Homo sapiens: one gene and its partners. The protein of the gene in region 5 purifies or fractionates together with the protein of the main gene of each other region. This does not show direct contact. Each region holds a gene or a part of one and is shown on either strand. Other genes may lie near its edges. The genes, in order: TMEM164, ITPRIP, ATL3, SLC9A8 and GALNT8.

Evidence for each region.
Region 1: the proteins of GALNT8 (region 5) and TMEM164 purify together in Homo sapiens (affinity purification with mass spectrometry; one large-scale study listed by BioGRID and IntAct). This does not show direct contact.
Region 2: the proteins of GALNT8 (region 5) and ITPRIP purify together in Homo sapiens (affinity purification with mass spectrometry; one large-scale study listed by BioGRID and IntAct). This does not show direct contact.
Region 3: the proteins of GALNT8 (region 5) and ATL3 purify together in Homo sapiens (affinity purification with mass spectrometry; one large-scale study listed by BioGRID and IntAct). This does not show direct contact.
Region 4: the proteins of GALNT8 (region 5) and SLC9A8 purify together in Homo sapiens (affinity purification with mass spectrometry; one large-scale study listed by BioGRID and IntAct). This does not show direct contact.

The regions. Positions count from the first base shown.
Region 1 is NC_000023.11:110,008,955-110,013,712, reverse strand, and holds part of TMEM164 (transmembrane protein 164), read right to left. Parts: intron 1-4,758.
Region 2 is NC_000010.11:104,308,341-104,312,231, forward strand, and holds the end of ITPRIP (inositol 1,4,5-trisphosphate receptor-interacting protein precursor), read right to left. Parts: 3' UTR 1,360-3,891; downstream 1-1,359. UniProt on the Homo sapiens protein: Enhances Ca(2+)-mediated inhibition of inositol 1,4,5-triphosphate receptor (ITPR) Ca(2+) release.
Region 3 is NC_000011.10:63,657,120-63,661,877, forward strand, and holds part of ATL3 (atlastin-3), read right to left. Parts: intron 2,134-4,758; coding exon 1,919-2,133; intron 1,844-1,918; exon of another isoform or gene 1,786-1,843; coding exon 1,642-1,785; intron 1-1,641. UniProt on the Homo sapiens protein: Atlastin-3 (ATL3) is a membrane-anchored GTPase that mediates the GTP-dependent fusion of endoplasmic reticulum (ER) membranes, maintaining the continuous ER network. It facilitates the formation of three-way junctions where ER tubules intersect.
Region 4 is NC_000020.11:49,884,938-49,889,652, reverse strand, and holds part of SLC9A8 (sodium/hydrogen exchanger 8), read right to left. Parts: intron 4,090-4,715; coding exon of another isoform or gene 4,030-4,089; exon of another isoform or gene 3,088-4,029; intron 3,060-3,087; coding exon of another isoform or gene 3,003-3,059; exon of another isoform or gene 2,908-3,002; intron 2,902-2,907; coding exon 2,755-2,901; intron 1,825-2,754; coding exon 1,717-1,824; 3' UTR 1-1,716. UniProt on the Homo sapiens protein: Na(+)/H(+) antiporter. Mediates the electoneutral exchange of intracellular H(+) ions for extracellular Na(+) in 1:1 stoichiometry. Acts as an Na(+)/H(+) exchanger in the trans-Golgi.
Region 5 is NC_000012.12:4,718,187-4,723,718, reverse strand, and holds the start of GALNT8 (probable polypeptide N-acetylgalactosaminyltransferase 8), read right to left. Parts: upstream 3,320-5,532; 5' UTR 3,042-3,319; coding exon 2,831-3,041; intron 1-2,830. UniProt on the Homo sapiens protein: Probably catalyzes the initial reaction in O-linked oligosaccharide biosynthesis, the transfer of an N-acetyl-D-galactosamine residue to a serine or threonine residue on the protein receptor.

The DNA of each region.
Region 1 (4,758 bases), on a different chromosome or scaffold from region 5:
GGTGATGGAGCTCAAACCCAAACCCAGGAAATATGGTCCAAAGGCTCTATCCACCAAGCTGAACTTGCATTAGGAAAATGAAGCATTCCTACTGCCCTACTTAAGTCAGGATCCCCGCTGTATCCCAGTCCAAGCCTACAATGTCCCAGCAAGAATTTGGCAAGTAAATGCCAATGAGGAAACTTATCTGGCCCTGATGTGTACACACCAGCCACTCAGATCTGATTAATGTTAAGAAAAGAAGATCAAAACTCTTTATAGAAGTCTCTCTTTACCCCATTTTCCTTCAACCTGATTTCTGAAGAGAACACCTGACTACCAGCCTTTTTGTGCTCTGCCCAGAACATCTAATAAGTGTTTACCCAGGACTCCCAGAGCCATAGTTAAGGGCCTTAATGTGCAATCTGGCTCTGCACCTTATTTAATCAGCACCTGAATGAAATGTCTCTTTGCTAGCAACAGCCAGAACACAGTCAGTCAGAGTCTTTCTGCAAACACAGCTGGTCGATTGGCAAAGACAATTCAATTCACAGGCAAAATACACCCTGACTTTATACCAATACTGGCATGTGATGGACATGAGGAGACTGAAGGCACTGGGCTAGAATTAGGATGGTACCATGCTTCCTTTCCCCTCCAGATGATCTCACTCCTCCCTCTCCTACCCACCTAAACACATGGCCACAGGGCAGAGCTTGCACTGTTTTCGCCAAACAGGCCAATCCTGTCTGACCTCCTGGCTCCTGCAATCCATTCCCTTCCCTCAACACCACCCAGCTCAGAATAAAACTCATATTATCCTTCCTCCCTCTGCCATTTCCTCCAGCAGCTACTAGACGGGAACCAAAACCAATCAAGAGATCCCCCAAACCCTTCCCTTCAGGATCTCATGCTGGTAACAGGTCCAAGTGCCTTGATGCCCATGAACTGACAGATGTGCAAGCGCTGCCCTGTGTAGCCAGGAAAGAGCTGAGTAAACACAGAGGACTGACTGGTGCCCAGAAGAGGGGTCCTCGCCAGGCCTTCAGATTAACTGCTGCATCCAAGCACTGTGGAGGGAGATTTACATTAATATGAAACCCTGGGGGTCAGCATGTAGGGTGGCAAGGCATGGATAACTCCAGTTCTCCTGATCAGGGGCTTTAGCGGGAGAGAAGAGGCCAAAACCTGAGCAAGGCACATGAGAAAGGACATCTGCTTAAAAACACTAGACACAGTCTACCAATTAGATATAATGTTAGGGTAACAAGGCCCTTTTTTAAAACTCATCCTCTCCCTGACGCCCAGTGGAGTCTGTCCACTCACATTTCAGTATGAACCTCTGAAATAAAACTGCTTTCTTCCTAATCCCCCATGGCTATCATCTCCTCTGATGAGATGGGCATTTTGAATTATAGAAAGGATTGTTTTGGAACTTGTGTGGGGTGGATCAGGTGGACAGACTTGGAAACAGGGAAGAAGAGATATGAAAAAGAAAGGTAGAAAGATGGCACCACACTTCATTAGTGCTGCTGTGGACTTTAGAGCAGCAACCATCCACAAGCCACTAAAAAGCATCTACTGGTTGCAGGTGGGATGCCTGCTATCTCCTTATTTCTCACATTTAATGTCTGTTCACTTACCCCAATGTTGTGTGCCTCTGTTGTTGACAGTGTGGGCCCTCCTTGGGACAGCACAGAGAACACAATTTTCTATCTCATCCCCTATCGAGGATTCAAGGGCATCTGCAGGTCGTTTATCAACAGCCTAGAAATGACAGAGCATTCCTAGAGTTTCACTTAGTTGGCCAAGGGAGAAGTAAGACATCTACCCCTGATAATAATAAGCAAATAATTCCAGGTTACAGTTGAGACACTTTTCTGTGAAGGAGGAAGCAACTCTGCGAACTTATGGTAGGATCTCTCAAAGTGAGGTCAAAGGCTCACAGGCATTAGAATCATCTGGGAGTTTCTTATAAATGCAGATTCCCATCCTCATCCTAGACCTGCTCAGAATTGCTATGAAGAGAGCTAGACATCTACATTATAACAAGCTTCCAAGGGATTCTTTCACAAATAAAGTTTGATAATCACTGCTCTCCACATCCATCCTCTTCCTGTCTACTTGAACCCTGGGTAAGTGAATAGATATTAAATAGGAGAAATGGGGAGATAGCACATAGCCTTTGCACTTATTGTTTCTTATGCCTAGAATTGCTTTCCTTCCTCCATCACCCAATGAATTCCTACGCATTCAAATACATTTATTGAGCACCTACTAGAGCCAGTCCCTGTTCTAGGCACTAAGAGAACAAAAACCAAGGGTCCTTGCTTTCATGGAGCTAACATGAGCCAGCTCAAATGCCACCTCTTCTAGGAAGCTTTCCTTAATTGCATTAGGAAAAAAAAAGACCCCTGTCCCCTATGCTTTGTTCAAATCTGTTACTATACATGTAATGTTGTAATTTAGTTGATCTATTTCCTTGTCCATCTCATCAAAACTGTGAACAAAATGAAGGCAAAGGCTACTTCTTCTTTTTTTTTTGTTTTTGGTTTTGTTTTTGAAAGTACATCAACAATGACTGCTTCTTATTTCTCTTTGAATCTCCAATACCTGGCACCAATGTTTGGCACACAATAGGCATTCGATAAATATCTGTTGAGTGAACGCAAGAAAGAATAAACTCCCACGAACATCTAAAACAACAGTCCTGCAAACAGAGAGTTAGCATACAACAAACCATGTGTCAACATTCCCTCTTGTTAGTCCCTGCAGATCTTAGAGACTGGAAAGCGGGGGGATATAGAAGGACTGGAGGGATATATTCCATATATCACTGGAAGGTAATAAAGGTGGCCTGGTTGAAATACTCCATTGACATAACTAACAGTCACCAAACAAGCCAGTGGAACTCTACAGCTACCTTAAAACCCTCTTCACAATAACTTGGGGCCCTCATCCTCTAATCTGAATCACACTATTTAACAGGTATTGAGATGGTGCCAGAACACTTAATGCCTTGCCCACAGATCACCCAGACTCATGCTCAATTAGGATGGGCACTGAAACCAACTTCCCACCTAATTACTTCAGCCACTAGATAATGTCTCTAAAAGTGGGGTCCAAGGCTGACCAGCATTAGAATCACCCAAGAGCGAGTATAAATGCAGATTCCAATCCTCACCCTAGACCTGCTCAGAATCACCATGTAGAGAACAAGGTATCCGCATTATAACAAGCTTCCAAGAGACTCTTTTACAAATAAAGTTTGACAATCACCGCTTTCCACATCCAGAGTCTCTTCGCATTCACTCAGCCAGTTCCTGGCAGGAGAGGAGCACGTGAGACAAGACATTCTCAATTTAACAAAATATATGAAAGACCAGGAGAAGCAGAGAAACCTAGCTCTTCATTTCAATGAGGCATAACAATGAGGTATCCACTGAAAAAGAGAAGAGGGGAGAAAAAGGAAAAGTAAGTCTCTGGCTTAATAACATTTTTTATTTATATGATATTAAGAAGCAAGAAAGTTGGCATGTCCAAGAGATTAAGATCAAGATCCAACAGTGTGATTTCCTGATTGGGAGAAAAGCAAACAGACACTTTGGGCCAAGAGTAGAGATTCTAATAACCATTCTTTGTGATGGAAATTCTACAAAAAGATGTGTGAGCAGGAGCTGAGATTGCCTCACTCCTGTGGCTATTTCAAAAAACAGGCAGAAAGATTTTTTTTTTTTTTTTGAGACAGAGTCTTGCTCTGTCACCCAGGCTGGAGTGCAGTGGCGGGATCTCGGCTCACTGCAACCTCTGCCTCCTCGGTTCAAGCGATTCTCCTGCCTCAGCCTCCCGAGTAGCTGGGACTACAGGCGCGTGCCACCACACCTGGCTAATTTTTTGTATTTTTAGTAGAGAGAGGGTTTCACCGTGTTAGCCAAGATGGTCTCAATCTCCTGACCTCGTGATCTGCCTGCCTCAGCCTCCCAAAGTCTGGGATTACAGGCGTGTGCCACCATGCCTGGCTGGAAGATTCTCTTAATAGGAACATAGGGCCACCAGTGGAGAAAGAAAAAAGGAAAGCAAAAAGTCAGTTCCATCAATCATTCAGTCACCATTATCCAGGTACACATTAAACAATTAATGTGCATATACAGTATTATATTCAGCTCTGCAAGGAGTTACAAAGGAAAAATCCACTACTCCTTTACTTTAAAAAAGTGTTCCCACTAATGGTGGAGAAACATTAAAGAAACATGCAAAAACAAAAAACAAAAAACAAACAAACAAAAAAAAATGATCTGGCCAAACACCAGATTACCTACATGCATACAAAGGTATTCATTAAAGAGCCCAACATTCTGACATGTATTCAGACGGCTGGGAAAGGACAAAAAGTGTTACTGGAGTCAGGTCAGGCTCCTATGGAAAGGTTTCGTAGAGGAGAATCTTCAGGGGAGTATTTACAGAGGGGGAGGAAACTAAAAACAAGTCTCACAAAGACTGAGAAGAAGGTGGCCCATCTGTGGCAAAGGAATAAAAATTCTGTGAGCTTGTGGATCATCCACTGAGTAGGGGCCAGCAACATACTGTTATTTAAAAGCAAGCTGAGTTGTATTAACAGGTGCAAGGCATGAAAAGACTGGGAAAAAAATACTTCCTCTCTGCTTGGTGTAGGCTGGACCTCTGGTAAGAGTTAGTGTCCAGTTTTATATGCCATGCATCAGAAAGGTATCCAGACACAGGCAAGGATCCAGAGAAAAGTAACAAAAATGATTAGAGGAA
Region 2 (3,891 bases), on a different chromosome or scaffold from region 5:
CTCCAAAAGAAACCTAAAATATCACTGACCTGTGGGTTTGAAAGAAACAGATGGGACGAAACTCTTCCAGACTCCCTAACCCACCGCTGTGCTACAACTCTCACTTCACACTTTTGAGGCCCACCTATTCCCATCAAGAAGAAATGTCTTTGAACATCTCTGAGGTTTATGTGGTTCCCTCTTTCTGAGAGATAATTTGTTGTTGACAGTTTTATTTTCTGGTTTCTTTGTGGGGCTGTGGAGAAACATCAAAGGGTGGAAAATGCCATTTTTACCTGTAAAGGAGGGCCCCACATTGTGCAGGAGGAAATAAACCAGACCCGGGCTCAGATGAATGGAGTGAGTACAAGCATTTGAGAGACAGAACAATTACGTGGATTTGATTTTCTTTGGGGAGGCTCTTCACAGTTTCCCATCTGTAAGGGAGCAAAAGAGGTTACAGCTGAAACTCAAAGCTGATCTGTTTTCACATTCCGCTCATGCGGGCTTCAGAGCCACACAATTTCACTTTCAATTACTTACCACACTTCATTGATCTCTGACTTACTTTGCAGCCATTGGTAGTCTTCCTATTAGACCCAGTTCCTTGGGGACAGAGCCCCCATCTTATACTTTTGTTCCCCACATAGAGCCGGACCTAGGCAGATCACATGCTCTTGCTCAGTACTTGGTCAAACACCTTTTCCTCACTGTTGATTCAAAATTTATTCAACGATGATTGACTAAATCCCAGGCAATGGTTATTTTTATAATAAGATGCTGGTGGTGAATCCACATACAGCAAGTACAGAATATGGAGATTACTGGGAGAGGAAGGATCATTTCAAAACAGGATTTGTGCACAGAGACGTTCACTAGAGTGTTGTTTATAACAGCAAAAAGTGGAGACAACTTAAGTGTTCCTCAGTAGGGAAAGTTGGGTAAATTATGGTACATGCATACAGACAGTGAGATAGTAAGCAGCCATATATATATATATATATATATATATTTTTTTTTTTTTTTTTTGAGACAGGGTCTTACTCACTCTGTCACCCAGGCTGGAGTGCAGTGGAGTGATCACGGCTCGCTGCAGCCTCTGCCTCCCAGGCACAAGCAATCCTCCCACCCCAGCCTCCGGAGTAGCTGGGATTAGAGGTACACGCCACCATGTCTGGCTAATTTATATATTTTTTGTAGAGACAAGGTTTGCCATGTTGCCCAGGCTGGTCTCAAACTCCTGGGCTCAAGCGATTTTCCTGCCTTGGCCTCCCAAAGTGCTGGGATTATAGGTGTGAGCTAATGTACTCGGCCAGTAAGCAGCTAGTTTAAAGAATAAGGTAGAGCCAAATGTTCAAAAAGATAACCAAGAAGAATTAGTCGGTATGATGCCATTTATGTAAAAAAGGACTAAAAGGATGCATATATATATACATACATGTGACACATACACAGAAAAATTTTGGAAGGATACACCAAAAACTTCATATTGGTTATCTCTGGGGAGTGGACTAAGAAGTCAGAAGTGGGACCGTTAGTCTGTTACTTAATTTTCCTGTTAGTACTTGAATTTTAAAATTATGACTGTATTATTGCTTTTATGTTTATTTTTTAAACAACAAACTAGTTAAACAAGCAAGCTATTTTTGGATGGCAATGAGAAAAGTTAACTCTAAAAGATGCCCTTCCCAGGGACAGGGGTGGGGCAAGGCAGAGTGGGGCGGAGAGGGAGGGCCCTGTTGAAGGCACACATTGCCCTTCACTCTGTGACTCTTGGCTCCCTCTGCTTTCGGTCGCTGGCCAAACCAAACAGCCTTCCAGCTCTGTCCCGTGAGGTGGAGATGAGACGGACCACGAAAATGTTCTGAATCACAGCCTTGGGGTGGCTTGAGTTAAGACTTCCTGGACATTCACCAACCACTGCCAGCTGCCACCAACCCTGCTCGGGAAGCCGGCCATGTACCCTACAGCACAGGACATGGATGGCACTGATCACATAGATAAGGACTCCTTAGTTTGGGGGTGAATCAAGTTACTGTCTCACTCAAAACCCGCCAATGGCCCACCTCTGCTTGTTGTGAGGTCCAAATTTACCTTGTATTAGCATTCAAGGCTTTGCATGGTTCAGCCCCACTCTTATCTTTTCAACCTCATTTGCTACGACTTCTCAGTATATGCCAACATGTACACCAGGACTGCCTGGGTTGGAATCTGGGCTGTGCTACTTACCACTGTGACAGTAGGTAAGTCAGTTGCCCCTTCAGTGCCTGTTTCCTTATCTGGAAAGCAGGGAGGATAAGAATAGCACCTACATCATAGGACTGACATGGAACTGTGTGCATTAACAAATGTGTGTGCGGAACGGTGCCTGCCATACAGTAGGTGCTTCCCACCCTCACTCCATGCTTCTGGCTGGAATGTCTTTCCTGGCCACAGTCCTGGTCATTTTTCAGAGTCTCTATCTGGCAGCGCCCCACCATGAGGCCTTCCCTAATCAGCCCAGGTACCAGTGGTTCTTGGACATCCAGAATCAGGTGGGGAACTTGGTGAAGTGCAGATTCTTCTACCTAACTTCTCAGGATCCCACTGGAGTCTGTGACACGGCCCAGGAAGCTGCCCCCAGGTGACACCCGTATGTGTAGTGCAGGGTCACACTTGGAATAGCTCAGTACTTGGAAGGCCACCTTCTGCTGCCTCTCCTAGGGAACAGGCTTGGTCCTATTCATTTTCCCATCTTCCACAATGTCTCATGCACGTTAGGCTCCTGACAAATGCTTGTGGACTATTCATGACCTGCTTGGGAGAAGGGCTCACCATCTTATGCCTTCCCACCCTCTCTCTGAGGCTTACGGCACTAGCGTGAATGTGGGTGCCCTCATGAGAAGCTTGTGGTGTAGCTGATGCCACTTAGACCACAGATTCCAAGCAGGCTCATTGGCTTTTCCCAGGTCTATCTATCTTCCAATAGATCTGTAGGGAAAGTAGTCCACTTGGGTTTTCTTTAACTTTCCATTAAGAAAGAAAGTGAGAGGGCTTCCTCAGCTAGGGGTACCATCAGTCACTTGGGGGAAATCTTTAAAAATCGAGCCTAGCCTGACCACTCCAGACTGGATTCTGAGCACCATGTAGGTTCAAGGCGGGGTCGGGGCAATGGACCAGGTTGTCTGGGTGATTCGGATGACACCCTTGATGATGAACCAGAGCTCCACCCCCAGGTTCTCAACGGGGGCTGTGCTTCAGCCAGGCATGCAGAGGGGCTAGAGCTTTTGAGGATATAAGGCCCTTCCCCAACATAACCAGCCTCTTGGCCTAGGGGCCAACTCTATTCATTTCACCCTTGTTATTTTGCAAAGCAAGTGAGCAGTTGCTGGGGAAAGTCAAGCATCCTTGGGAAAGAGACTCTGGGGAAAGAGGGCAGGGTTGTCCTTAGTGGAAAGGCCAAAGTCCCCTAGAGGACTCAAAATCCTCTATTTAAAATACAATCTCTTTCTTTAAAACCCAAAAGCTTCCTGTTAGTTCCAGCTCCTATATTTCTCGCTGACATTAGCTCTGTGAAATAAGGTCTTAGGCTGGAATCCACCCTACAGCCAGCTTTCAAAGGCCCTTTCTGGAGCCCTGCGGGCAGCACACAAGTTGCCTCAAAGACAGGGTAGAAATGTTCTGTTTTGTTATTTTTTAAAGTCTCCTGAAAGTGTAAGAATAAAAAGGGAGTGAAAGCTTCTGCTTTGTCAATAGGAAATCCACCCCCCTGTCCCCAACTCTGCCCTGGGAGCCTCACAGATTTCCTGAAGTTAAAAACAAACAGTGACCATTTCTACTCCTTGCAAGATTTAATTCTTCCTTTAATATAAATAAGGCAGCATGAAACACCAAGAGCCCCACTGCTTTCTGCTTTAGAAGCAGCTTTGGTGC
Region 3 (4,758 bases), on a different chromosome or scaffold from region 5:
GAATTGCTTGAACCTGGGAGGCGGAGACTGTAGTGACCAAGATGGTGCCACTGCACTCCAGCCTGGGCAACAGAGTGAGACTACATCTCAAAAAAAAAAAAAAAAAAAGGACAAACAGGTGTGAAGGCATGCTTATAGGATTGGGCTAAAAACAGAAGTAATGGATGAAAGTCTGTATAAGAAACACATGACTTACCCCTCCCGATCCTTACAAAGAAATCTGTGGAGAGGCTCTATGCCCATAGCTTACAAGGCATAGATGAGACTGGGGCTAAGAAGCCCTACTGATAGCTAGGGGATAGTGAATGCCCACCTTCTGAACAGTGAGATCCCCAATGCCATTTCCCTGCTCAACTCCCAGAACAACAGCCAGGTCTGTGCCACCCATACAGGAGTAAGGAAGTAAAGAACAGAAGTGGTAACACATAAGAGCATCAGCCTCTGGGAAGTGAAAACTGGGTAGAGAGGAGAATAACACACATGACAGCTGCTTTCTGTTAGAAGCCTTACAGTAGTACCTGACCTTTTAAACTATATTCATGCATTTTATTTAAGAATCTTAAAAACAATCAATATGTATTAATTTTAAATCATTCACTTTGATAAAAAGTTGTTTTCACATCTTCCTTCCTTTTATTGAAAAAAAATTTCAGAAAATAACAGTTCATAAAAGACACAAACAAATCAACAGGTATATACCAGTGGAAAACACAATATGAAACTAAAAATGCCATTGGCTTTTTTTTTTTTTTTTTGAGACGGAGTCTCGTACTGTCGCCCGAGCTGGAGGACAGTGGTGTGATCTCGGCTCACTGCAACCTCTGCCTCCCGGGTTCAAGCGTTTCTCCTGCCTCAGCCTCCCAAGTAGCTGGGATTACAGGCACCCACCACCACACCCAGCTAATTTTTTGTATTTTTAGTAGAGACAGGGTTTCACTATGTTGGCCAGGCTGGTCTCAAACTCCTGACCTTGTGATCTGCCCACCCTGGCCTCCCAAAGTGTTGGTATTACAGACGTGAGCCACAGCACCCGGCTGCCACTGGCTTCTTTAATTGGTTAAGAGCACAAAATGTAACAGGCAGAAGGTCTGTTTCAAACAAATTAAAAAGCTATGTGTTTTTTAAATTCTCCCCAAGTTGGATATACACACACCCACAAAAATAGTGTGTGAAGGAAAGCTGTCATACACAGTAAGTTGTATCCTGAATTATTCAAGGAAACACATGTTGAAATAGGAATTAACAGAGTCAGCAACAGATTAATATTTTTTAACTGAGTCTAAAAATGCTACATAGCCCTAAGGAATACTACATAAAGTACTGCTAGGTACAAACAAAAAAGTCTGTATAGCTTTTAGCAAAAATGTTTTTCCAGAAAAGAAAATTAAAATAATGCAATCAGCAGACCAAGGAGACTACAGCTAGACATCAGAGCTACAACTTCGCATACCTGTGTCAGAAAATCCTATTTATCCACAACAGACTAAAATTTCAGGACAAAACAGGGACTTTTTAACTTTTCTTACTTTACCCATTTTAAATTCTTTGATAAAAGGTTTTTAATTGGGTTAACACAGTACATGCTGAAGTTCATATTTTGTTGTTGTTGTTGTTAATCTGTAAGGTCATTTTCATCCTTACCTTCTTCCCACCTGGCTTCTCCACAGTGAAAACTTCACTCCAGATTTGAATCCCAGTGGTTTCTGGATCAGATCCCCCTCTCCAGGAAAATCCTGTTAACGGTTCTTCTGGGTCACCCAACCAATTTGAATGGCCACTTTCCTTCTACAGAAGTAAGAAATTTCTATTAAATCTTAAATTAAAAATTTTATGCATCAAGGATAATCTATGAGCTTATTTCGCTTTTTTGGACATTAAAGTCTCACTTTTTACTTGAAATAAAATAATTCTATCTTACCTGAGAATATAAGTATCGTAGCATAAAATCCAGAATGAAGGACTTGCCCTTTCGGAAGGCACCAGCCACTGAAACCACCACCACATCAAGATCTCGGATGTGGTCCTGCAAGAGGATGCTGGCCAAGGCTTTCTCATCTAGCTCAAAGGAATGTTGATCTTTCTGAACCAAAACAACCTGCACTGGACCAGGCTTGCTGCTCTCCATGGCATCATCTATGTTCATGCAGAGAAAAAAAATCAGTGTCAAATATTTAAAATATGTTTTTGAATATAGGGAAAACAAAAACTTCTTAAACAGGGGACAGGGCCAGGCTCAATGGCTCATGCCTATAATCACAGCACTTTGGGAAACCAAAGCAGAAAGATTACTTGAGGCCAGGAGTTTCAGACTAGCCTGGGAAACGGTGAAACCCAGCGCTATGAAATTTAAAAAATTAGCCATATGTAGTGGTGTATACCTGTAGTCCTAGCTACTTGGGAGGCTGAGGCAGGAAGACTGCTTGAGCCCAGGGGTTTGAGGTTACAGTGAGCTATGACCACACCACTGTACTCCAACCTGGGTGACAAAACTAAACAAAACAAAAAACGGACACAAAAATACTAACCATAAAAGGGCAGGGCACAGTGGTTCGCCCCTGTAATCCCAGCACTTTGGGAAGCCGAGGTGGGTGGATCACTTGAGGTCAGGAGTTCAAGACCAGCCTGGCCAACATGACGAAACCCCATCTCTACCAACAAATACAAAAATTAGCTGGGTGTGGTGGCACGCACCTGTAAGTCCTAGCTACTCGGGAGGCTGAGGCACGAGAATAACTTGAAACTGGGAGGCAGAGGTTGCAGTGAGCCGAGATCATGCCATTGCACTCCCACCTGGGTGACAGATAAGACCCTGTCTCAAGTTAATGGGTGCAGCACACCAGCATGGAACATGTATACATATGTAACTAACCTGCACATTGTGCACATGTACCCTAAAACTTAAAGTATAATAATAATAAAAAATAAATAAAATAAAATGTTGTTAAAAAAAAAAAGACCCTGTCTCAAAGAAAAAAAGTACTATCCATAAAAGAAAATAAAATGACAACACAGACTTCATTAAAATTAAAAACTTTGTTCACTTAAAGACTTCAATAAGTAAAAATGCAAGCCATGGGCTAGGGAAGAGTATTCACAATATCTGTTTCCAAAGGACCCACATCCAGCATCAACATAGCAATCCATAAGAAAAAAATAACAGGCACTTTGTAAGAAAAAGATATACAAATCCTATTAAAAGGTACTTCCATATCATTACTTAACAGGGAAATCTAAATTAAAACCACAATAAGATACCACTACCTGCCCATCAGAATGGCTAAAATTTAAAGACTGACAATATCAACTGTGGGACAGGGTATGAAGCAACCGCAATTCTCACACATTCTGATAGGAGCACAAAATACTAAAGCCACTTCAAAAAACTGTTTGGCTGTATCTACAAAAATTAAATATATCTGTGATCCAGCAATTCTACTCCTAGGTATACACCTAAGAGAAATGAATGCCTATGTCCACCAAAAAACATATATACAAGAATGTTGAGCTGGGCATGGTGGCTCGCACATATAGTCCCAGCTACTTGGAGAGCTGAGGCAGGAGGATTACTTGGGCCCAGGAGTTCAAGACCAACCTGGACAATATTGCAAGACTCTATCTCAAAAACAGAAAGTTCATTATCAGCTTTACTCAAAACAGTCCAAAAGTGGAAATAAAACAATGTCTATCAATAATAGTGTTTGCCACTGCTAAGCTTTATTTAGATATATATATACACATATATATATATTATTTAATCCTCAGAACAACTCTTTGATGTAAATAATACTGCTCCATTTTAAGAAGAAGGAAATGGCCAGGCTCAGTGGCTCACATTTACAATCTCAGCACTTTGGGAGGCCAAGGCAAGCTGATCACTTGAGGTCAGGAGTTCAAAACCAGCCTGGCCAACATGGTAAAGCCCCGTCTCTATAAAAATACAGAAAAAAAAAAAAATTAGCCATGCGTGGTGTCGCACGCCTGTGGTCCCAGCTACTGAAGAGGCTGAGGGAGAAGAATTGCTTGAACCGGGAGGCAGAAGCTGCAGTGAGCCGTGATCGCGCCACTGCACTCCAGCCTGGGTGGCAGAGTGAGACTTGGTCTCAAAAAAAAAAAAAAAGAAGGAAATGAAGGCTTATGAAGGTTCAGCATATTGCCCAACAGGTCCTAGATATAAGCTCAAAAAGATCTTTAGGTGGTTGTATTTTGCATATCACTAGTAATAACTCAAAAAGTTTTAGAAGCTATTAATTCTATAGTTCAAAATTAAGCACTAACTATATTATACTTTCCTTACCAGAGTTTCCCTACCAAAGCACAAAGATAACTAATTAATTTGAAATTCAGGCCAGGCACAGCATCCACGCCTGTAATCCTAGCACTTAGAGAAGCTGAGATGGCAGGATTGCTTGAGGCCAGGAGTTCAAGACCAACTTGGCCAATATAGCGAGAGACTGTCTTAAAGAGAAGAGAAGAGAAGAGAAGGCAAGGGGCCGGGCGTGCTGGCTCACCTGCGCAATCCCAGCACTTTGGGAGGCCGAGGCGGGCAGATCACCTGAGGTTGTGAGTTCCAGACCAGCCTGACCAACATGGAGAAACCCCATCTCTACTAAAAATACAAAATTAGCCCGGTGTGGTGGCACGTGCTTGTAATCCCAGCTACTTAGGAGGCTGAGGCAGGAGAATCGCTTGAACCCAGTAGGTGGAGGTTGTGGTGAGCTGAGATTGCACCACTGCACTCCAGCCTGGGCAAAAGAGTGA
Region 4 (4,715 bases), on a different chromosome or scaffold from region 5:
AATTAAAAAAGATCATATTTTAGCTCTATCAAGTACACATTTACTTTTCATGCAAAAAGTAAACAGTGTGCTTCCTGCTTGGCTGGCCTGCTCTGACTTCAGGGTCAAGGCGAGGTGGTAGGATCGGGCCTGGCCTCTCATTCCTGGCACAGAGGAACCTGGAAGGTCCTGAGGTCAGTCCCTCCTGACATCTGGAGCCACACTGCCTGAGGTGGAAGAGATGGAGATGTGCTTGCTCTAGCCCAGGGTCCATGCTGGCCCATGTGGGCCCACTGTGTCCCCAGAGAAGCAGGAATGCACATGATCAGCCCAGGGTCCATGCTGGCCCATGCAGGCCACTGTGTCCCTTGAGAAGCAGGAATGCTTCTTAATGATGAATTAAACCACCCCAGGGTGCCAGGTTCCAAGGCTCCCTGGGACCCAGAACCACATACGGAAGTTGGCAATGGCTCTTTGATGAGCTGAGCAGTTTGAGGCTCGTCAAAGGGGAGATGAGGAGAGGATGGGAGTCATTCCATCTGGACATGACTGGCAGCTCCTCACCCTGAGATGGCTGAGGGGGCCAGGCCCCTGGGACAGGGCTGGGGTGTGTGTGCGTGGAGCGTGTGCTCCAGGATGCTGGGGCCCCAGGTCAGAGTAGAGGAGGGAGCACTGGGTGCTGCTGCTCTGGCCCCTGCCCCAGTGCTTTGGGGACCCTAGCATGGGTGACGAATGGGATCCAACGTGGTAGGGAACTGGGAGAGGGGAAAGAGGATGGAACCCTGACTAGCAGCGAAGATGGCAGCAGTGAGCAGACACTGCAGGGCCTCAGCACAGTGGCCTCCGATTAGACAAAAGAACAACTGAGTACGGGAATGGTGGGGAGGGAGATCAGATGGCAGGAGGCGACTAGAGGCTCTCAGCACTTTGCTGTAAAATGCAAATCAAGACAGCAGTTGTGGGCCGGCAGAAACCCTGTGCCTCTAGCTTTTCCCTCTAGAGGGCGCTCTGACCCCGCAAGATAAAAGCCTAGAGTTGCAGCTTGCAGGGGGCTCTAAAGAAGATACCAGAAGGTACCAGTGTAAACATTCAGAACATGCCCAGAGAAGGGCAGCAGCCGTCTGCTACCCAGGGAGATAGACTGCGAAGTGCCAATCAGGTAAAGGACAAAAGGTCACTCCGTTTCTCTCTGAGGGAGCACAGGAAGTATCACAAAAGGCAGCGGGAGGTTTTCAGGATTTCTGGGCCCTGCCACTTAGGTCAGAATTGTGGCTGCAGAGGCATCTTGATGACTCAAAGGCAGGTGGCTGACCCCTGGCTCTGCCAGTCCGGCGGGGGCAGCATGAAGGCAGTGGCTGGGGAATGGCACAACTGTAGATGGTGCTCCTCTAGGCAGGGGGCCGCAGGGGTCCTCCGGGTGGGGGGGTAGGCGCCCTAGCTTCACAGATGACTGGCACCTGGCCCCATGCTCCCTCCCCTCTGTGGGCTGAGGAGCCACACTGAGCGGAGGCTGGCTCAGGGAGGAGTCGGGAGATGACAGTTTCCCAAGAAGTCGCCTGGCTCCAGAGGCCTGTCAGGTTCTGGACTAAGGCGACTCTGCAGCCAGTACCTCGCCCCGCCCTCTTATGTCTTGAAGGGGCTGCTGGATGCACGCATCTCTGCGAGGCCCCTGCTGAGTGTCTGTGCGCAGCAAACGCCCATCCTGGGCCTGCCTGCCTGAAGCCTTGGCACCTGGCGTCAGAGCAGCTCCTGCTCGTCGTCCTCGGAGCCGGAGGGGCCCTGGCGTACCTCCTCGTACCACTTGTTGGTGAGAGTTTTCATCTGGATGCGCCCGTGGTGCAGGTCCTGGGTCGAGAGACACAACCAAGCCGTCAGGGCGTCAGGGGCAGGGCCATGGAAGGGAGGGGATGCTACTGGGTGTTTTGTGTGGGGTGTCTAGGGAGGAGGTGGGAGGCAGGGTGATGGCCACAGGCAACTTCAGTTTCAGTTGAACAAACTGAGCTGGGATTGTTCTTTGTGGGGGTGGAGGTCACGGGAGGTGTCATTCAGAAAGGAGGAGGGAGCATGGCTTGAGGCTGAACATGTGGTCTCTGGAGTCAGACACAGTTAGCTCTGCTCCCAGTTATGCCCATATTGGCTGTGACCTTGCGGGGTTACTGCACCCCCTTAGGCCTCCATCTCCTCAGCTGTCAGGGACACAGCTGCATCCACTGCACAGGATGCTGGAGAAGGAAGCGGTCGTGGTCACAGTCACTGGAGCTGCCTGGCTCCTGGAAGAGCGCACACACCGGCAGCTCTCAGGCCTGCCGGAGAGTGGAAAATGGGCCTGCTCGGAAACAAAGCGGGCAGCAGCAGGAAGAGCCCCACCCCTACCCAAGGCCTCCAACTAAAGAGAGGCCAGCAGTGCCCCGAGGGACAGAACCAGAGCCCTGAGCTGGGGGCAGACTTGGGCCACAGCTTGAGGCCCTGGTATGTCTGAAATTCCTCAGCTCCGATTCAGTAGCTGATCAATACCCCGAGTCTATCATCCAGGAAAACCAAACTGTGTTAACAAATCTATTATTAACCTCGCACTAAATGTGGCAGCGAAGGAAAAACAGCAGATGCCGAGTTCCACAAGCACGTCCAGCCTCCAGATCGGGAGGCGGCGGCCTGGCGGGCCCACGTGAGCTTTCCTGCCTCCCCACTCTTCCTCCACCCCACCCTGGGCCACCGCAGGTCCTGAAGGAGGCAGGCAAGGGACCCCCAGAAAGTGTGGCCTGGCCGGTATCCCACCTCCTGCGTCAGCCTCCGAGTGAAGAAGGGGTTCAGGTACTTGGCGTCCAGCCACACGAAGCCCTTAAGGTCCTGCCGCCTGATGTAGTGGGCCTCGTACTCCTCCTCCGTGAGCTCCGACAGGTGCTCCGACTCCACAGTGTTGCCCTGAGCAGGGAGGAAAGGCGGCCCGACGGCCACCAGCTGGCACCATCGGGGGGCACCTCCTGGAAGCCCCCACACCACCCAGGCCGCCAGTGTCCCCAACCCTAACTCCACTTGACCATCAATGCAGGGTGACGGGCAGCAGACGGCCTCCTGGGAGCCTGCAGGGAGGCAGGAACGTCCATCAGGGCACAATGGATGCCCAGGACCCCACCTAGGACAGCTAAAACAGAAGGACTGGGCCAGGCTGGGGCTTGGTCTTTAAGCTTTTCAAGCTTTTGGGTGATTCTATCATGCAACCAGGACCAGAACTGCTGTTCTGGGCTTTTCATTAGCAGCAAATCGCACAGGGAGGCTTTTTGTCTCTTTGCCTGTGGCTCTATTAGCTAGGACTCCACCGTGGACAGGCTTTTGCCAATCAAGTCAAGAGAGGAGAGGGGAGAGGAACACATCCTGTAGGAATTGGGGAGGGACGAAGAAAAGGACCCCATGTGGAGGGGAGAGACGGAGGTAAAGAGGCGGGACTCGGGTCATAGGTAGGAGCAAAGCAGACAGGCTCTGAGTGCAGCGCCTGCTCTGCTGGAGGAGTCTCAGTGGGGCCACAGTGAAGTGTGCTCTGCAGCTTCACTGCAGGTGGTGGGGAGGGGGACGGGGCAGGTGCAGGGAGGGCAGAGGATGGCCGGGGAGGGGAGGGCATTTAGATGCTGTGAAGCAGTGGTTGTCAAACACTGGTCTGTATTAGAATCTACCTGGGGGGCCTGTGAAACCACAAAATACTGAGCCCACCGCAGCCACCTGCAGAGGTGCTAATTCAGTAGGTCTGAATGGGCTTGGGAATCTGCAGATCTAACAGGTTTCCAGTGATGCTGCTAGTCTGGGGAGCCCATTTTGAGGACTGCTGATCAGCGTGGTAGTAAAGAGGACAGGCTCGGGAGTCTGTGCCCACAGCTGTCTGATTCTCTTGGTGCCTCGGCATTCTCATCTGCAAAGTGGGTATAATGAAAGCGCCAGTTTCTGGCAGGCTATGGGGACAATCTGAGATCATCCAAGGAAAACGCAAGCACACTGACTGCCACAGAAAACATTCCAGAAACTCAGCGGTTCATCCTCAGAGGAGCTGTCCTGTTTCTGCTAGTGCTGTGCTTCGCCAAGCGTGTTCACAGGATCAGCTGCAGCAGCACCACCTGGCAACTTGTTAGAAACGCAAATTCTTAGCCTGGACCACATGGTGAGACCCCATCTCTACTAAAAATAAGAAAAAATTAACTGGGTGGGGTCACGCCTGTCTGGAGTCCCAACTACTCCAGAGGCTGAGGTGGGAGGATCGCTTGAGCCCAAGAGGTCTGGGCTGCAGTGGGCCACGATCACGCCACTGCACTTCAGCCTGTGCAATAGAGTGAGACCCTGTCTCAAAAATAAATAAGAAGAAACACAAATTCTTTCGGACCCCATACCATACCTATGAGATGCTGGTGTGAGACCCAGCAGCCTGTGTGTAGCAAGCCCCCCACCGATTCTGATACCCAGAAAGGCCTAAGCTAGAGCTTTTGTGAAAAACAAAAAAGTTGGTAGATAGGGGGTGGGGGCAAAGGGCCTCTTAGTGTGGTGGAAGTTCTGCAGAGCCAGGCCTCACAGCCATCTGGAAGTTTCCTCCCAGCAGCACTGCACTGGGTGAGGGGCCCAGCTGAGCATGGAGATTGGAGGCCATGGTCTTGCCAGCCCTGACTCCAGTGTTAGCCGTGGATGGCCACGTGAGGACTCCTGGGCCTCTGATGACTGATTAAAGTTACTGAGGCCTAGAATACGGGAACTAGAAA
Region 5 (5,532 bases):
CTTTTTGAGGTTCAACTCAGGTGGTAGTGAGTCTCTGACATCACAACATTTCAGAGCGAATAAAATGTGGGAGCACCAAGAATAACAAGAAAGATCTTTGCAAAAAAGGAAAGAGGAGTAAACCAGATGGCTCTGGCTGGCTCCTCATGGCACATTGTGTCCTAGCTGATGGAAAGAATAGCAGGGCTTTGGGTAGAACTCCTGCCATTTTACGGCTTGAGGAGGCTGAGCCAGTGTGATGAGCCTTGGGGATGGGTGAGACAGTCCTGGTGTGGTCTGGGTGCTCTGCCAAATAGTGAGGGTGGTGCTGGGGTCACCACCCTAGGTACACAGGCATCCTCCTGGTGAAGCTGCACCAAGCATATTTGCATGGGCAATGTCCGACCCACCCAGGTAAGCCAGGGCTTGTGGAGCTGATGATCTTCCCTCTGTTTCATCCACTCTCTTGCCCCGTATCACTCTTCCCTTCATCCCTGTCTGCCTGTCTTTTTCTCTCTCTTTCCTAGACACACCCACTCATTTATTCATCTATGGAATTTCGATGTATGAATAGAAATGAGTAGTGAATGAGACGTTCATGGAAACAGCACTTATGAAACTTGCTTTCCATAAAACTGTACCATAATAAAATATGATGAGTCTTATGAAGGAGGACGTGGAAGGTGCTATGGGTGCCTTAGGACTCCTCCTCTCTCCTTTTATTCTCTCCTTCTCTCCCATCACACTTTCCCTTCTTTTCTTCTTGTCTCCATACAAACTCTTTCACTCTCTCTCCCTGGACTCCCTCACTTCTCTGCTCCTTTCCTGTCCCAGCTCTTTTCTCCTCTCTCATCTCCCTTCTCACTCTCCTCGCTCTTTCCCTGATTTCTTCTCTCCCTTCCTTTTTCTCTTCCTGCCTTTCCTTCCACCCATCTCCCAGCCTCACCCTGAACCCTGACAATGCTCAGTTCTCATTTTAAAAGACACTTTCCCCAACTCCAGCCCCATGTGCACACACCTGGGCAGTCACATCCCTGCCCACACATAAAACACCTCCCTATGGGGTTCCAGCATTTGATCCCTGTTACCTGGGAGCAGGGGGAAATTGCTGCTTCCCTTGCTGAAGTTGGATGCACAGGCACATAAAATTCAGAGGCATTAGACTTCCATGGTGAGCCGGAATCACAAACAAACCCCAGAATGTGTTGAAATCTTACCCTTAAGTTTAAATGAGGAGGTTAAAATTTGGCACAGAGCAGTTTATAGATCACCTTCTGCATCTACTTCACAACCCTATTAGGTCAGGTTGATAACTATCACTATTGTTATCATCATCTCCATTTACAGACCAGGAACCTGAGGCTGAGAGAGAGAAGCACTTGCTCAAAGTCACACAACCACAATGGCACATCAGGATTCGATCTTAGGTCCTCTAACAAAGCCCTCATTAGTTCATGAAAGGAGCACACCGCAAAATGGAAGCGAGGCCCTTGCCCCAGAGATTGCCACCTCTCTTCAACAGCCCCTACCACACATAGGCGTGGGGAAAGGAAAGAGAGATCAGATTGTTACTGTGTCTGTGTAGAAAGAACTAGACATAGGAGACTCCATTTTGTTCTGTACTAAGAAAAATTCTTCTGCCTTGAGATGCTGTTAATCTGTAACCGTACCCCCAACCCCGTGCTCCCTGAAACATGTGCTGTGTCGACTCAGGGTTAAATGGATTAAGGGCTATGCAAGATGTGCTTTGTTAAACAGATGCTTGAAGGCAGCATGCTCGTTAAGAGTCATCACCACTCCCTAATCTCAAGTACCCAGGGACACAAAACACTGCGGAAGGCCACAGGGACCTCTGCCTAGGAAAGCCAGGTATTGTCCAAGGTTTCTCCCCATGTGACCATCTGAAATATGGCCTCGTGGGAAGGGAAAGACCTGACTGTCCCCCAGCCCGACACCCGTAAAGGGTCTGTGCTGAGGAGGATTAGTAAAAGAGGAAGGAACGCCTTTCTGCAGTTGAGACAAGAGGAAGGCATCTGTCTCCTGCCCGTCCCTGGGCAATGGAATGTCTCGGTGTAAAACCCGATTGTATATTCCATCTACTGAGATAGGAGAAAACCGCCTTAGGGCTGGAGGTGGGACATGCGGGCAGCAATACTGCTGTTTAAGGCATTGAGATGTTTATGTGTATGCATATCTAAAGCACAGCACTTAATTCTTTACCTTGTCTATGATGCAGAGACCTTTGTTCACGTGTTTATCTGCTGACCTTCTCTCCACTATTATCCTATGACCCTGACACATCCCCCTCTCCGAGAAACACCCAAGAATGATCAATAAATACTAAGGGAACTCAGAGGCTGGCGGGATCCTCCGTATGCTGAACGCTGGTCCCCTGGGCCCCCTTATTTCTCTCTACATACTTTGTTTCTGTGTCTTTTTCTCTTCCAAAGTCTCTCGTTCCACCTAACGAGAAACACCCACAGGTGTGGAGGTGCAACCCACCCCTTCAATAGGCCTAAGGACAGGTCTATGGCCCTTGGGATTCTTATTCTTCTCGTTGCCTGCACATATGTAGATATAATGATAATGCATGTGCACAAGCCCACACACGCATACACACACACATGCTCACCTCCCCCATACTGCTTGCTCTAATTTCCACTTCTACTCACTTCATTCTCAATACCCATCTCCCATTTGAAGGCACAGAATTCAGTGTCAGATGCTTCAATGAGCGACTGAGATGAAAATGTGACCTCTCACCCATTTTTCCTTCCATATCCCTTTTTCCTAAGTGCCCCAAACACACACACCCACACACACACCTTCCAGGTTAGCATTGTAAACTTACTCAGATCCTGCAATTCCACCTCCAAGTGGGAGAGTCTCTTTATCACTGCCCCGTAGCGTTTATTCAGATGTAAAGGAAGCTCCCTGTGGAGACCACCCGTAAACAGGTTTTGTAAAGTCCCCTTGCTAGAAAATACCAGAAGGAGATTGACAGCAATGGCCAGAGTCAGCCCAATGAAGAGGGCTTTGGGGAGTTTCCTCCAAAACATCATCTTCTTCCTGGGGGTCGTCCACTCCCTGTGGGACTGAGTGTGTCACTGCTGGAGCAGGTTAAGAATCAGAACCAGCCTAGCTTTTGTGGGAAAGAGAGTTCTAGGTGCCAGTTGAGTTGGTCTCCCCTGTGTGAGACACCCATGGGAAGCCACGGGTGGCCTCTGAGGAGCAAAGTCTCCTTATTGCCTTCTTTGTCTTTATGCCCCGAGAGGATAACCGCTCAGCGGCTTTCCACAGGTTGCTCAGCGGCTTTCCACAGGTTGCTCAGGGAGATAACACTCCCTTGAAGCAGAGGAGTATAATCAAACATCTTGGCTCCTCCTGAAACCCACTCCCACCCATTTCAGTCATTAAAGATCTTAAGTAGTTTAGACACACGCCTTTGCTCAAGGAAATTCACAGAAACCGCCACTGTTACACATCTTATCGAATGACTCACTGATTAATCCTTTTCCTCATCCCTTCCTCCCCTTCCCATCTGCCCTAAGAACAAAGAGCTTGTAAACCAATAAATTGGGTGGAGCCCAGAGCTCTGGGCCGTGAGCAAGCCTCCAACGCTCTGGTCCCCTGGACCTGCCTTTTAAACGCTTGTTCTGTCTCTTTCTAACTCCTTTGTCTCCGCCGGACTCGGGGTATCCGCTGGGTGGTGTGGGGCTGGTTTCCCCAACAGCTTTCTCTCCACCCAGCTTCATAGATGACACCCTGCCTGCTAGGCCAGATGTTCTCCGGCCAAGAACACTATTATAGCTGCCTGGCTTCTCCCTGAGCAGCGTCAGGTGTGAGGAGTGCGCATGGCAGCTGCCCAGTGACAGGTAAGTCACCTGGACACACCTTGTACTGTCTCAGAAGTCAGAAGAATGCTTGCTCCTGCAGCTAGCTCAGGCTGCCTGGGTGAGAGGCTTTTCTCTATATATGTTTGTTTGATGTTTAATGTTCTCTCTCCCTGGAAAAACCACCTGGGAGACTCTGATAGGGCATGTGAGGTCTGGTCCTGTGGGTATAAGAAGGGGATAAATAGGATGAAGAAGAAATCACGAAGCAAGAAGTCTCTGTACACTTAGATCCTTGCTTTTTTGGAGAGCTGGGATCTAAGATGTCTTTTTACCTAACTCTACAGGGTTTTGGACATAGTAGGTGTGCAACAAATGCTTGTCCCACAAACTTAAGGACAGACTTTCTTGCTAGTTCCTAGGACTTCACTGCCTAGAAGCAGGTGGAGAAGAGCTGGAGGCGGTGCCCGGGGTTGAGCCTCAGGGGATGACTCCGATTCACTGGTCTCTGTCCTTTGCTTGTCCTCTGCACAACTTCATACACTGGGCTTCTGCCCTGCCCCAGCTTCCAGTAACTCCTTTGCCTCCACACCTCACACTTATAATATGTTTTGGACAAATCACCAGTGATCATCATTGTAGAATAAACACATAAAATTGTTCCCCAAGGCTAAAAGTTCAAAGTTCTCAGTCTACTGTCAATCCCGTCAAAATCACAGCTTCCACCCCGGCCTGGCTCTTTGGACTATTTACTACGTCCCAAACACAGCACATGGTGACATGTGCTGAGGCGGACATGTGGATTAAAGGAAAGTAATGTGGCTTTAGGAAAAACAGGATGAAAATGAACAAAATGAAAAGGAATCACTTCTTCTGTTTCGCAGGGATAGAAAATGTCTCCCAGCCTCCCACTTGCAAATTAGACTCAAAACATAAGAAACGCATGATCCAGCCAGGCGCAGTGGCTCACGCCTGTAATCCCAGCACTTTGGGAGGCCGAGGCAGGTGGATCACCTGAGGTCAGGAGTTCAAGACCAGCCTGGCCAACATGGTGAAACGCCATCTCTACTAAAAATAACAAAATTAGCTGGGCATGGTGGCAGGCACCTGTAATCCGAGCGACTTGGGAGGCAGAGGCAGGAAAATCGCTTGAACCCAGGAGGCGGAGGTTGCAGTGAGTCGAGATCGCGCCACTGCACTCCAGCCTGGGCAACAAGAACAAAACTCCATCTCAAACAACAACAACAACAACTACAAAAAACAAACAAACAAAAAAGCATAACCCTTCTGCTTCTGGGACAAGAAGAAATACCTACATTTATCTTCTCTATTCCTTCCCATCAAGGCAAGTAAAAAGTACACATGATATGTAAAACAAACCTAAGAAGACTCTGAAAGGTAGAGAGAACAGGGCAGGCTGACTAGAGATCTCCAGATATCCTAGCTATTGTAGGAAATAGATTCCAAGTTGCTGGATGCTGGAGCAGTCAACAACTTGGAAATGCAATGGGCAGAGACAATAGAAGCCCCAAGAAAAAGCTGCTTTCTCTAACCAAAGAAACAGGAAATGGGAAGCCTAGCAAGACAGAAGATGTTTAGACAACAACTGCCCTACTCCAGCCAAATGCCACTGAAAACCTTGCAGTGCCATGCCCACCACATCCACAGAGGCCTCGTGGGGAGCCTAGACTTCCAACCTCACCCCAGCTGTGAGGGTTTG